Homo sapiens: one gene and its partner. The protein of the gene in region 1 interacts with the protein of each later gene in a biochemical or structural test. Each region holds a gene or a part of one and is shown on either strand. Other genes may lie near its edges.

Region 1 (3,500 bases):
AAAAATTAGTCAGGTGTGGTGGCGGGCGCCTGTAGTCCCAGCTACTTGGGAGGCTGAGGCAGGAGAATGGCGTGAACCCAGGAGGTGAAGCTTGCAGTGAGCCAAGATCGCACCATTGCACTCCAGCCTGGGCGACAGAGCAAGACTCCGTCTCAAAAAAAATAAAATACAAAACAAAATTAGCCAGGCATGGTAGCACATGCCTGTAGTCCCAGCTACTTGAGAGACTAGGGCGGGAAAGTCACTTGAACCTGGGAAGCGGAGGTTGCAGTGAGCCAAGATCACACCATTGCACTCCAGCCTGGGCAACAAGAGCGAAACTCTGTCTCAAACAACAACAACAACAACAACAACTTTTAGCCTAGAGAGAAAATGAAACAACTGGCATGACGCACTGGGGTCCTGGCTGACCCCAACATGGAGGCTCAGCATCTCAGCGAACCCGCTGCACAGCCTGAGTCTCAGGACACACACAGGGCTCAGGACTCGCTGTGACACTGACAGGTCACTTAGGCTCCCACTCACACCACCAATGCTGGTACAAGCAGGCAAATAAATACAGGTGATCTACACAAGGGAAGATGCTGGACTTGAGCGTTACTCTGACAAGACTTGATTCTGTGCATAGCAACTGAAGATGAGTATGCAGAACTTAGCAAAGATTTTCAAGAGAAAATAATGTAAGGATTACGTAATTCGGGAAATAAAAACCTGAAGGGCAATTTCAACTAAGAATGGCGACTACCTGCTCACCATCTTTTGGAGAACGAAGAAGAAATGAATGGTCTGAACAGACTTAGCCCGACAGAGCTGCCCAATAGAGAGGATGCCAATGTTAAATGACCACAAGAAATGTAACATCTCTTTTTAGGACACCCTAGATAAGAAATCTTCCAACTGGTCCTTCAGGAGAGTGTCTAAGCAGTCTTGGATGAGCTACATCAACAGGTCTGCAGACCACAGAGCCAGCAATCAGGGACCACATTCCATGTAGTACAAAATTTAGAGGTTTCCCCTTTATCAACAAGAGACCCAGGTGCCAGCATGTTACTACCAGATCCAGTTCTTCTTAGGACAGTGTGGCTCAAAGGGATGAGACCTTCCAGACACTGGTATCTGAGCATCTGTGGCCTGCCCCTGAGTTGTCAAGATAATTTCCTTATCTCTGAAGGAGTCCAGACAGGAATGCTTCCACTGCTGGGTGGGTGCTCGCCCCTCTTGCTCCTTAAGCGCCCGGCTCACCCCCTTGCTAGCACAGGGTGTCTTACACAGTTTATGGGACTTTTCTGTGAACTACCTGAGGGCAAGAACCATGTCCCACTCCCTCCTTGCTCCTCAAATATTTTATAGGAAAGCAGTCCACAGTCTCACACAGAGGAAACATGAAGTTTAAGTTCTAGCCCTATGAGGACAACACCTACTTTGATACCAGGCGTCACACTCTACAGCTTTGTTCAAGCTGAGGAGAGTTCTCTTTCCTTATCTGTGTGTTCCTCAGAACACAAAGTGGGACTCCTGCCAAGTCACCCTTGACTTACTGTGAGGCCTTCCTTAGAGAGGCCTCACCCTGCCCGGTACCCCCTGAGTCACAGCAGGGTGGCTCTTGTTTCTCAGAATGACACCACACCCTTCCACATGTGTCCAGTGGGCTGAAGTCTCCTACTCTACCAGCCAGTATGTTTTTAAATCCATTTACAATCTGAATTATTAAACATCCACTGGGTATAGAAGAGTTTCCTAAGATACTGAAGAATTTGAATTGTCTGGGGATTATAGACTGATTTTTAATACAGCAGACTTAACCACTAAGTTATTTCACCCATATTACCCCCTACAACGAAGTACTGGTTGAATCAATCACAGGCTGCCTCATCATCAATCAGGGCTCAAAGCCAGCCTTTCTCTAGGATGTCTTCCTGACCTCAACCCAACCCCAACCCCAATCCCTCCGGCCAACCCAGGTGTGCTGAGCACCACACAACTTCCACTCATTTGGGCACAACGTGGAAAGCAGCACTCTTTAGGCCGACCCACCCGCACACTGAGGAACAGGAGAATTCTGACAGCGGCTGGCCCCACAGTGTGTGCTATGTGCCCAGGACTGTTATGCGTGCGTGACACGTACTCATCTCACCCTACAAGGAAACAGGCAAAGACTGGAGAGAGGATGAAGCCTGCCTGAAGTCACAGAGCTAGGACATGCACACAGGTTATCAACCCAAGGAATCTCAAGCATATTTAACTTTTGCTTCCAAAGATACTTTTAAAAATGAAGAACAAACATGTAACAAGATAAGCAAATGATACACAAGTAAAACCGCTGCTTAAAGAAAAGTAACTTTTAATGACAACAATGTCTTCTAAGTACCCATTTTCACCAGCTACTGCTCTAATTAGCTTTGGTAAATAAATCACTTAGTTGTCTGATACAGAAGCAAAAGTAAACTTTTTTTTCTGATTAGACACAGTGGATACATTTTACAAAACCAAAACTTCAATCTACATTGAATAAATTTAGGTTCTATTGTATGGTTCACAAAATCCATACAAATTATGTATTTTGTGGGAAAAAATGTATTAAACCTGTGAGATTAGTTACTAACTTGGTTTAAAGAAACCTGAATCTTAACTGCCTAATTTGATTCTGTGGTACAAAAATGTCACACAGCAAACCTGCCTTCAAACTAATTGGTGTTAAAAACTGGTTTGCAAAAACAAAAAGTAGCTCTTTCATACGGTTATTCTAAAGCTAAATGGAAGACTGTAAAATGCCCAACAATGGAACAGCTGGTAACGCTCAAAACACAAAACCCCTGGGCTTGCATCTAGGGGGATGTTTACATGGAACCAATCCCACCCTGTTTGCTATTTACTCAATACCCAAATGATGGCAATATAAGCAAGTCCATAGGTAACATGCACTAATTAAGCGCTCGAGAATTATATACTCTAAAAGACACATTAAAAGTCAGCTGCAATCCTTACTGTTTGCGGATAGGATAGGGGGCGTAATCTGTCATAATCTTCTTGTCCAGCTGTATCCCATAAGCCCAGATTCACCGGTTTTCCATCTACCATAACATTGGCAGAATAATTGTCAAAGCTGTAGAATGGAATGAAAATGGTTAGTCACAGGTGTAGAAGCTAAGTCACTGTCCCAGCCATCCTAGAGAAGGTGTGCCAAGAAAAAGGCTGGGGACGGGCCTGGAGGCTGCCACACCAGCAAATGTCCCTGCAGGCACAAGGAGGAAGGCGGCACGGGCAAAACTTGCGGGAAACAAACCAAACCCAACCCAAAACTTAAGAGAAATGAAAGAAACAAACAACAAGCTATTTAAGTGAAACAAATCACCGTCAGAAATAAAAACATTTTACTTTAAACAAAGTTTAAGACTTTTATCCCCAGAAGAAATAAGGGTACAATTAGCCCCGCTTTCAAATCCTACTTGTTGGGTTTTTCATGTACTTATGTTGCTCATTTTCAGCAAGAGAGCTAGCTG
Region 2 (3,500 bases), on another chromosome or scaffold:
AGACAGGAGAATTGCTTGAACCTGGGAGGTGGAGGTTGCAGTGAGCCAAGATCGCGCCACTGCACTCCAGCCTAGGCGACACAGTGAGACTCCATCGCAAAAAAAAAAAAAAAAAAAAAAAAAAAAAAGAGAAAAGAAAAGAAAAAAGAAAATAGGGCTAGGATTTTAAATCCACATTCTGTTAAAGTGAAAAAGAACAGGCAAGGAGGTAGACAAGGATACAGGTAAAGAAGGATACAGGTAAAGAAGGATACAGACCAAGGGGCAGCAGTAATGAGGGGGGTTCTGCCATCACCATCCCTGCCCTTTAGGTGTTGACTCCATGGGAGCACACTTTGAGCATGTACGTTTCCATCTATTAAATCATTTAATCCTTTGATGATGCATTTTCCACTTACATTTTACAGATGAGGAAACTGAGGCACAGAGAAATTAAAACAACTTGCCAGGTTCCACAGGGGATGGAAGCAAATCTAAACTCAACATTTAATGTTTGCATGGCATCTGAAAGCTGCCAAGATGATCTTTAATTAGACAGACAATAAATTCCTCATTTAGACAAACAATACAGTATAGACATGTTATGCAAACCTGTCATAACAGCAAATATTTACTGAGTATCTTCTAAGTGCCAGGATACCAAGCTGCTGGCTAGATACTGAATCTAGGCATAAGTATGTGAAATATATGTTGCTTCAATTATATGCAAATCAAGTCTACTTATTTGGAGACAACTATAGGATATGCATTAACATTACTTAAGATTGAATTCATATTGCCAGTAAAATATGAGAACTGAGACAAAATTATCAGGAACTATGTCAGGCATGGTGGTACACACCTGTAGTCCCAGCTACACAGGAGGCTAAGGCGGGAGGATCTCTTGGGCCCAAGAGTTCAAGTCCAGCTTGAGCAACATAGTGAGATCCTATCTCTTAATAAAAATTATCAAGAAATAAACCACCCTAATTTTTAAAAAAATTAAAATGTCTTCCTTCAGAGATTTAGTAGTAATAGAGAAAGAACAACCAATTAGAAATCTTCTTTTTGGGAGATCCCAAGCAATAAACAATAAAAATGTCCTCCTATCTTTTATCAAAAGTAAATTAAACAGATTGGTAGTTTCCCTGCAATTTGGGAATGACCTGGGTGCACTTATGTCTATCAAATAATATCTCTGCTAACATATTCAACAGTTCTAAAAATTGTGAATGAATAAACGAATAAATGAATAACACTGTAAGGTGTCCTGGAGAGAAAAAAAATGGAGAAGGAGGACATCTATCAATTCTTACTGTCCAGCCCCCCATGTGCCACCCCCAGGGATTAGAAGCTCAGAATTTCCAGGCTTAGAGTTCCCTTTCTTACACAAAAAGGTTCCCCGTTCACTCAGCCTTCCCAATGGCTCCTATAAGCCTCACTTCCAGCTGAAATCCCTGGGAAGCTAACCTTGCTTTATCTCTAGTCAGTGGAGATTTTAAACTTTTCCATTTGTTTTAGTCTGTTTTGTGCTGCTATAACAGAATACCTGAGACTGGGTCATTTATGATGAACAGAAATTTGTTTCCGCACAGTTCTGGAGGCTAGGATGTCCAAGGTTGAGGGGCCTGCAACTGGTGAGGGCCTTCTTACTGCACCGTAACATGGCAAAAGGCATCGCATGGGTGAAAGAGAGAGAAAAGGAGGCTGAACTCATCCTTTTACCAAACTCACTCTCACAATAACATTAACCCATTCAGGAGGGCAGAACTCTGGTGGCCTAATCACCACTCATTAGGCTCCACCTCCCAACACTACTGCATGGGGGACTACGTTCCAACACACGAACTTTGGGGAATACATTCAAACTACAGCACCTTCCAAATCACATTTGTTTCCCAGAAGAAAGAAAAGCAAACTTAAAGTCATAGCAGAATTAATTCTATAAAATAAACATGAACCTGTAAAGTAATCAAGGCCTGGTTAGCATGTGGTTTACAAATCAAACATCCAAGAGATACTGTAAATAAAGCGTTCCATAACATACCCATGTGTTTTCACTTACTTGACAAAAACCTGCAAGCACTGTGAAGAGTAACTATATATCAGAAATGCCTCTTTACCTTTCTGATGCTCTAGCGCATCAGAATCACCTGGAGGGCCTATTAAAACTCAGACTGCAGACCCCGTCACAGGCTTTCTGATTTGGCAGGTCTGAGTGGGGCCTGGGCATCTGCCTTTCCAACAAGCTCTCAGGAGATGCTCCGCTGCTGTTACTGCTGCTGCTGCTCCAGAGACTGCTCTTTGAAAACCACTGCATATACTAAATAAACAGCTGTCAGCTCCTCTTAGGCACCTTGGCAAGAAGAAGTCATACACAATACACGATTATAAAATTAAAGGAAGGTCCAATTAGAGCTTAGTAAAATCCCACAAAAAGTCTAAATGAAAGTTCCTCAGGCAATTGCCAATGAATTGGAAACACAGTCTAAGTCATTCTTCAATAAAACTGGGATGCTGGACATTGCAGGACCGTAAATCAGTGAAATCTGAAAGGTAAACATTGCCACAATTAATGGAGAGAATGAAGAAAAATGAGGTGAGAGAAACCCTACCCCCTAGAGAATTCAGTTGTCAATATCCTTGTCCTGCTCTAAGTACAACTCATTTTCTTACCTGTTCTCATTGAATTCACCTATCCTCGGCAAAACCCTCTGGCAAAGCTGTTCATCCAAAAGACAGCCAAACCCAGAAGCACAGTGAAGAGGCCGCTAAGCAGCCAGCAGACAGGGCACCAAATGCTCACATCGCTGTCTTGCCACACCTGCCTCCCCTGTCACTCACTTCACTGGGCCACTCACCCATGTCTCTAATGAAAAGTTTGGGGTGTTTCTTTTTTTAAACCATCTCAAAGAACAAGAAGGTACATCAGTAAGGGGTTGCATCAGGTGACTCTCCTCAGGACAGCTCCAATTGTCCTTTATTGCCTATATAAATAGAAGATTCCACAGTACAAATATACTAGCACGCCTTTCAGGTTTTCCTCTGACCTTCCTCAAGGTCATTTCAAATTCACAACTTTCATGAAGCCCTCCCATTGCCGCCATCCAAATCCATCCTTCTCATATCTTCTCTTCCACAGAACTTGGAAGGGCACTAAAAGTATAAGCATTTTTACTTGTCACCCAGATTCTCTGGTAAGCTGTCAGCAGCTAAGCGGTGTTTCATTCATCACGATACTTTGCTAGTATTAGGTGCTCAATTAATTGAAACCATTACAACTTGTTTAGCACTATGTGCCAGGAACCACATCAGCCACCTCTATAGATATATCATTTCCACACACCTCTCAAGGTACAGGAGAAAACCCCAAGGCTACTGAGGCAGGCAATGGAAGTCAGAATTCAAACCCACATCTATTCAACTCCAAAGCTTCTGCCATTTTATCAGCACCACACTGCATCTCAAGAGAGAAAAATAAAATAGAGCAGTAAGGTGACAAAGTATCAGCTCACAGGTCG

What was found.
Region 2: the proteins of RAC1 (region 1) and IQGAP2 form a complex in vitro, tested with the Homo sapiens proteins (one study listed by BioGRID).

Annotation. Positions count from the first base shown.
Region 1 is NC_000007.14:6,391,527-6,395,026, reverse strand, and holds part of RAC1 (ras-related C3 botulinum toxin substrate 1), read right to left. Parts: intron 3,104-3,500; coding exon 2,986-3,103; intron 1-2,985. UniProt on the Homo sapiens protein: Plasma membrane-associated small GTPase which cycles between active GTP-bound and inactive GDP-bound states.
Region 2 is NC_000005.10:76,409,785-76,413,284, reverse strand, and holds part of IQGAP2 (ras GTPase-activating-like protein IQGAP2), read right to left. Parts: intron 1-3,500. UniProt on the Homo sapiens protein: Binds to activated CDC42 and RAC1 but does not seem to stimulate their GTPase activity. Associates with calmodulin.